Linked DNA regions of Homo sapiens. The protein of the gene in region 2 interacts with the protein of the main gene of each other region in a pairwise test. Each region holds a gene or a part of one and is shown on either strand. Other genes may lie near its edges.

Region 1 (3,500 bases), on a different chromosome or scaffold from region 2:
CAGGCGCAGTGGCTCATGCCTGTAATCCCAGCACTCTGGGAGGCCGAGGTGGGCGGATCACCCGAGGTCAGGAGTTTGAGACCAGCTTGGCCAACATGGTGAAACCCTATCTCTACTAAAAATACAAAAAATCGGCTGGGCCTGGTGGCACATGCCTGTAGTCCCAGATACTTGGGAGGCTGAGGCAGAAGAATCACTTGAACCCAGGAGGTGGAGGGTGCAGTGAGCAGAGATGGCACCACTGTACTCAAGCCTGGGCAACAGAGCAAGACTTCGTCTCAAAAAAAAAAAAAAAAAAAAAAAGGGATACAGAGAGAGAGACAACAGTAACATTTTGGAAAACACATTTCCCTCTATTACTTTGTCTTCATGCAATTATCACTAAATAAGGCAGAGCTTATAGAATAATAAATGAATGAAATATAAGTTAACATAAAAGAATCCAGAAAGTAGATTAAACACATGAACCACATTAAATGCTGTGAAGTACTAAAAAAGCCAAGATTCGTAATTGAAGAACACATTTGGGAATGACCAAAACAAATGATCTCAATTACCCAGTGCTCATAACAGAGTATACAGAAGTTATTCTCATTCTTAAGAGCAGTCAAAACCACTGGGCGCAGTGGCTTACGCCTGTAGTCCTAGCACTTTGGGGAGCCAAGGAGGGCGGATCACCTGAGGTCAGGAGTTCGAGACCTCCTGGCCAACACGGTGAAATCCCGTCTCTACTAAAAGTACAATTAGCCAGGCGTGGTGGCGCATGCCTGTAGTCCCAACTACCAGAGAGGCTGAGGCAGTAGAATCTCTGGAACTCGGGAGATGGAGGTTACAGTGAGCTGAGATTGCACCACTGCACTCCAGCCTGGGTGACAGAGCGAGACTCCATCTCAAATAAAAACAAAAAACAAAACAAAAAGAGTGGTCAAAACCAAAAGTAAACAAGTTCACAACAAAGTGAGATAAAATTCACAGGAAACAAAGTTCCTTGTGAATAGGTGGAATCTCCAGCCTAACTTTATTATTTGTCTGTCAGCTGATCAGGGAGGGAATTGTACTTAGAAGCTTCCTCTAGATGACCATTAAAGAACCTAATTTCTATTTCCCTAGTTTCATGCAATTTTACATTTTGATGATTTTATTACATTTCTAAAAACTAGCATCCTGTAATATACATGTATTCCTTCATTACTTGCAAACTTTACCATATACAAATTATATATGCCCAGTAATAAAAATAAGAATTATCAAAATTTAAAAGGAAGCATCAAATCTTGTAAGCTCAGATTCACTCTGTTAATGTTCTGGGAAGGAAAAATTTCCAACTTTTATTTAGTTCCCCTCTAATTTCCATTAAGTTCTTCTTACTCATCCTTATAAGTCTTAATTTAAAGCGTCACCTGTGTTCAGTTGGGCCTTTTGAGACCCTCATTCTAGGTTAAATAACCTCATTATTTATTCCCATTGCACTTCATACTTTACTTTTGTGAAACTCATCACACTTGCAAATACATATTTTCTATCTATCTACACTGCCAGACCATAAGGTGCATAAGGGTAGGGATGTCCGCCTTATCTGTTGCTTTCTCCCCAGTACTCAAAAATATGTGTTAATTAATCCCTTGATACAAGTGGAATTGAATCATTATGAAACCTAACATTCAAAAAAAAAATGTCTTTACTCTTAGCAACTAAGAAACATATAAATGAAAACTGTAAAAACATGACCTTAAATTTCAATCCCAACCTCTAATCTCAACATCTGCTTTCACTAATTTTCTTCTTTGTGGCAACCACTGAACAATTTTTTCATTTTTTAGCCTCGACATTTTCTGAGAACCAAATTAAGCATCCATTCCAGATTATTTTGTTGCTACACCAGCAAAGTAAAACTTCAGGACCAATCTGTAATTTTAATTTTCAAAATTATTTTCAGGAAGGGGAAATATTTCTGAGATACTTTAGCTTCTGATTAAAAGCAATTTTAGACTAATCATAGTTTTCTTGTTTATTACATAAAAACAAAAAAACTGACACAAAACACTAATATATTTTGGTTTATAAAACAAACTTCAATTCAGAGTCTGAAGACAGATATGTTCCAGTATTATTCTTTCCCCTTAACTTTCCCACCATCTTCTACCAAAACCGAACCAAACACCAAAACAAACCTATCTATTACGTAAAAAATTATTCAAATAACAGCTAACAATAAGCACTTACTATGTGCCAAACACTGTCCAAGCTCACACAGCCAGGGAGCCAGGATTCAAACCTGGCAGCCTGAATCCATAGCTCTTGCTCATCAGTTTACAAACTATAATAGTTCCCCCATTTTCATCCTATATACCCTTTGCAACTCTCCCATTTCTTTCTGCTACCTCAATGGTCTTTACTTCTTTCAACTCTTCTCTTCCCATTATAAATAATAAGCCCACTTTTTAATTGCTAAGGTTCAAAATACTATAGTAACCCTTGACTACCATTTTCCCTCACTTGCAACATCCAATCCATTGGCAAATCCTCTTGGTCCCACCTTTAAAACAAATCCACAATCTGACCATGTTTCAGCACTTCTACTACCACTTAGTCTGGACTATCAATATCTATTCCTTGGTCCCATCAATCATTTTAAATTGGGACCTTTGCACTTACTTATCTCAATATCCAGGTCTCATTACTTCATTTCTCTCAGGTCTCTACTCAAATGTCACCTTATCAGTTATGTGTTCCTTGTCTAGGCTAAATAGCAACATCCCCATTCCTATGTTCTATTTTTTCATAGCACTGATCTAATATTCTCTCTCTATATTTTTATTCTTCTTTTATCCTGTGGTTACCTATCTCCACCCCTATCCCACCCCTACCCTACAGAATATAATCTTCACAACGGTAAAAAATTAAGTCTGTTTTGTTCAATGCTGTTTGCCCAGAGTAGTGATCAGTATGTAGTAGACGCTCAGTATTTGCTGAATAAAAATTCATTTTCAATACTCATTTCCTCCCTTGAGTTCTTAAAATGTAAAATATCTGCATCAGAATAACAAGCTAAAATTTAAAACACAAGTATTACAGTTTTCGAAACAAGCCCCCAAAATATAAAATCACATTTACAGTTTCTAGATCTTCATATTTCTGCAAGCAACATTCACAATATCCTTTTTTCTTCTTCTCTTTCAACTGGAGTTGAATTGAGGTTCCACCATACTTATCGCCATCTGTTTGGATTCTGATGACAGACATACATGGTAAAGAATTAACTGCTGAACCTAAGGAATAACTTTAAAAATTTATTGTCCTAAACTATCACACACAATCTGCATAATTTGCAGAGACTTGTATCAGCAAGTACTTTTAATCATATTTCTTTATACTATATTGAGAAGCAAACTAAAGATTTAATGAATATTCTGGAGAATATTTCAGATCATTCAAGATAAACTACACATTTTCATTATTCACAAATATTTTAAGGCCCTCCCCACCTCCATCTAAACAGA
Region 2 (3,500 bases):
CCCAGAAGGTCAAGGCTGCAGTGAGCCATGATCGCACCACTGCACTCCAGGCTGGGCAACAGAGAGACTGTCTCAAAAATAATAATAATAATATTGTATGTATATAAATACATGAATAAGTAGAAGTATATGCTTAACTTTACTCTAAAACTACCGAGCATCTACTTCATGTTACCTTCTTTAAATTTGTTTACTATCCAGTCTAGCTGATCCAGTATACTGCGGAAAGTACCCATATGATCGAGGACTTCTTCTGTTATAGAATTCAGGACCTATATCATGAATGTGGAAGAGGTACCACATTAATTACAATTTATTGTCATATACAACTAGAAAATCAAACCTTTTTTTATAAATTAAAAATGAATTTGGATTTCCCAAAAGTTTAAAAAATAACTTTTAAAAATTCTACTGGTACTTGAGTATATCTAATTCATTGTTTTTTGCCTAAGTTGTGGCTAAAAGAAAACAGAAAAGAATAGCAAAGATGTACAGGTAATAGGTAATATAAGAGGGCAGCAAAAACAAATGAAAAAGCTCCCAAGAACATGAGAAACATTAGAAAACTACAGTTCTATCAAAGGAAACAGGACACAAACACTACAGACACTTTAAAAAAGGAATACTATATGGCTCAATATCCAGCACCCAAAAGATTTCATGTTCAAATGATGAAGAGATATTAAGCATTTGAAATAAAAATGATCTATGATAAATGTATTGTTAAACTACAGTCTTCACATCACATCCTGTTGCATTTTAAAGCATTTTCACAGCATGTAGTTTTTGCCTAATAAAGCATTTTCATAGTTTATAACAAAACTGAAGACCCCATAATTCCCTCCTTCAGAAGTACCACTGATACTCAGTATAGTAAACAAAGCTAACATTTTCCTAAGTTTTAATACATGTCAGTTACAATGTAGGACATTCGAAGATGGTTTCAAAGCTAGATTCTTGAGTCCAAACACATGGTATTAAGCACTATACAATCCTACTACCGTGAAGGCTAAAACAAAAATTCTTTAATACTCCATCCTCATTTATGTGGGGGCTTGAATTGGCAGAGGATATAATGTTTTTCCCTTTAACATTTTTGAAACTTACTGATTTCACACTGATTCCAGGAAAGAAGCCATTGATGACAACGTGAATGGAATCTTGCAGCATAGTGGTTCGAAACCTTTCTAGTAAATCTCTCTTAGAACCCAAACCATAAAGCACAATGTTGAACCCAAGGCTGTTAGGAAAGACAGTATTCATGAAATTAAACTTCAATACCTCTTATTGCCAATTTTATTATCAACCAGTTTCCTTAAATTCAGTTTATAAAAAATACAGGAAAGGGGTAGGCGCACTGGCTCAAGCCTGTAATCCCCGAATTTTGGGAAGGCAAACGCAAAAAAGTTTTTCATGTATGTATATATATGTATCTTTTTTTTTTTGAGACAGAGTCACTCTGTCACCCAGACTGGAGTCCAGTGGCACTCTTGGCTCACTGCAACCTCAGCCTCCCAGGTTCAAGCAACTCTTCAGCGTCAGTCTCCCAAGAAGCTGGGGCTACAGCTGTGCACCACCATACCTGGCTAATTTTTATATTTTTACTAGAGATGAGCTTTTGCCATGTTGCCCAGGCTGGTCTTGAACAACTGGGCTCAAGTAATCCACCCACCTTGGCCCCCAAAATTGCTGGGACTACAGGTGTGAGCCACCATGTCTAGCCAAAAATATTTTTATTTAAAAAAAAAATTAGGTCAGGTGCGGTGGCTCACGCCTGTAATCCCAGCACTTTGGGAGGCCGAGGTGGGCGGATCACGAGGTCAGGAGATCGAGACCACAGTGAAACCCCATCTCTACTAAAAATACAAAAAAAAAAAAAATTAGCTGGGTGCAGTGGCGGGTGCCTGTAGTCCCAGCTACTTGGGAGGCTGAGGCAGGAGAATGGCGTGAACACGGAAGGCGGAGCTTGCAGTGAGCCGAGATCCCGCCACTGCACTCCAACCAGGGCAACAGAGCAAGACAGTGTCTGTAAAAAAAAATTAACTAATTAATAATAATTTTTTTTTTCGCTCTGTCGCCCAGGCTGGAGTGTAGTGGCACCATCATAGCTCACTGCAACCTCCGCCTCCCGGGTTCAAGCGATTCTCCTGCCTCAGCCTCCTGAGCAGCTGGATTACAGGCGCCCGCCACCATGCCCAGCTAATTTTTATATTTTTAGTAGAGACGGGGTTTCACCATGTTGGTCTTGAACTCTTGACCTCAGGTGATGTGCCTGCCTTAGCCTCTCAAAGTGCTGGGATTACAGGCATGAGCCACCGTGCAAGGCCAGGAATCAATGTTTAGTGATTCAGCCATCCCAGTTCTTCCTCTTCCTTCCTAAAAAAAAAAAGTATTCTTTTTAAAAATTATTATTGGCCGGGCATGATGGCTCACGCCTGTAATCCCAGCACTTTGGGAGGTCGAGGCAGGTGGATCACATGAGGCCAGGAATTCGAGACCAGCCTGGCCAACATGGTGAAATCCTGTCTCTACTAAAAATACAAAAATTGGCTGGGCATGGTGGCAGGTGCCTGTAATCCCAGCTACTTGGGAGGCTGAGGCAGGAGAATTGCTTGAACCTGGGAGGTGGAGGTTGCAGAGAGCTGAGATCACATCACTACATTCCAGCCTGGGCAACAGAGTAAGATTCCATCTTAAATAAATAAATAAATATTTATTCCAAACCCATACAAGGTAAAGGCACAATTTTATTATCTGTATACCAAGCTTCTAGTTCTAATTTGTTCAGTAGCTTCACTGTAGCTTCTATTACTTTTCAGATGACAGATGACTGGAGGCAAGGGAGACCATTGCCAATAAAAGCCCTAAAAAGGCCAGGCGCAGTGGCTCACGCCTGTAATCCCAGCACTTTGGGAGGCCGAGGCGGGCGGATCACGAGGTCAGGAGATCGAGACCATCTTGGCTAACACGGTGAAATCCTGTCTCTACTAAAAATACAAAAAAATTAGCTGGGCGTGGTGGCAGGCACCTGTAGTCCCAGCTACTCAGGAGGCTGAGGCAGGAGAATGGCGTGAACACGGGAGGCAGAGCTTGCAGTGAGCCGAGATTGCACCACTGCACTTCAGCCTGGGCAACAGAGCAAGACTCTGTCTCAAAAAAAAAAACAACAAAAAAAAAGTCCTAAAAACTTTTATAGGCTGAAGCAGAGTTGAAACTGATACAAATTGAAAAGAGGTCAAGTAACAAAGGCCTTGTTAAGTCATACTAAACCATTAATTCACTCATTCCAAGGAGAATGAGCATTTATTTATTTATTTTGAGATGGAGTCCTGCTCTGTCACCCAGGCTGGAGTGCAGTGGTGCGATTTTGGCTCACTGCCTCCCGCGTTCAAGCAATTCTCCTGCCTCACCCTCCCAAGTAGCTGGGATTACAGGCATGCACCACTAAGCCCGGCTAACTTTGTATTTTTAGTAGAGACAGGATTTCACTATGTTGGTCA

The links.
Region 1: the proteins of ORC2 (region 2) and DBF4 interact in a two-hybrid assay, tested with the Homo sapiens proteins (one large-scale study listed by BioGRID).

Annotation. Positions count from the first base shown.
Region 1 is NC_000007.14:87,900,493-87,903,992, reverse strand, and holds part of DBF4 (protein DBF4 homolog A), read right to left. Parts: intron 3,230-3,500; coding exon 3,115-3,229; intron 1-3,114. UniProt on the Homo sapiens protein: Regulatory subunit for CDC7 which activates its kinase activity thereby playing a central role in DNA replication and cell proliferation. Required for progression of S phase.
Region 2 is NC_000002.12:200,925,661-200,929,160, forward strand, and holds part of ORC2 (origin recognition complex subunit 2), read right to left. Parts: intron 1,241-3,500; coding exon 1,108-1,240; intron 273-1,107; coding exon 176-272; intron 1-175. UniProt on the Homo sapiens protein: Component of the origin recognition complex (ORC) that binds origins of replication. DNA-binding is ATP-dependent. The specific DNA sequences that define origins of replication have not been identified yet.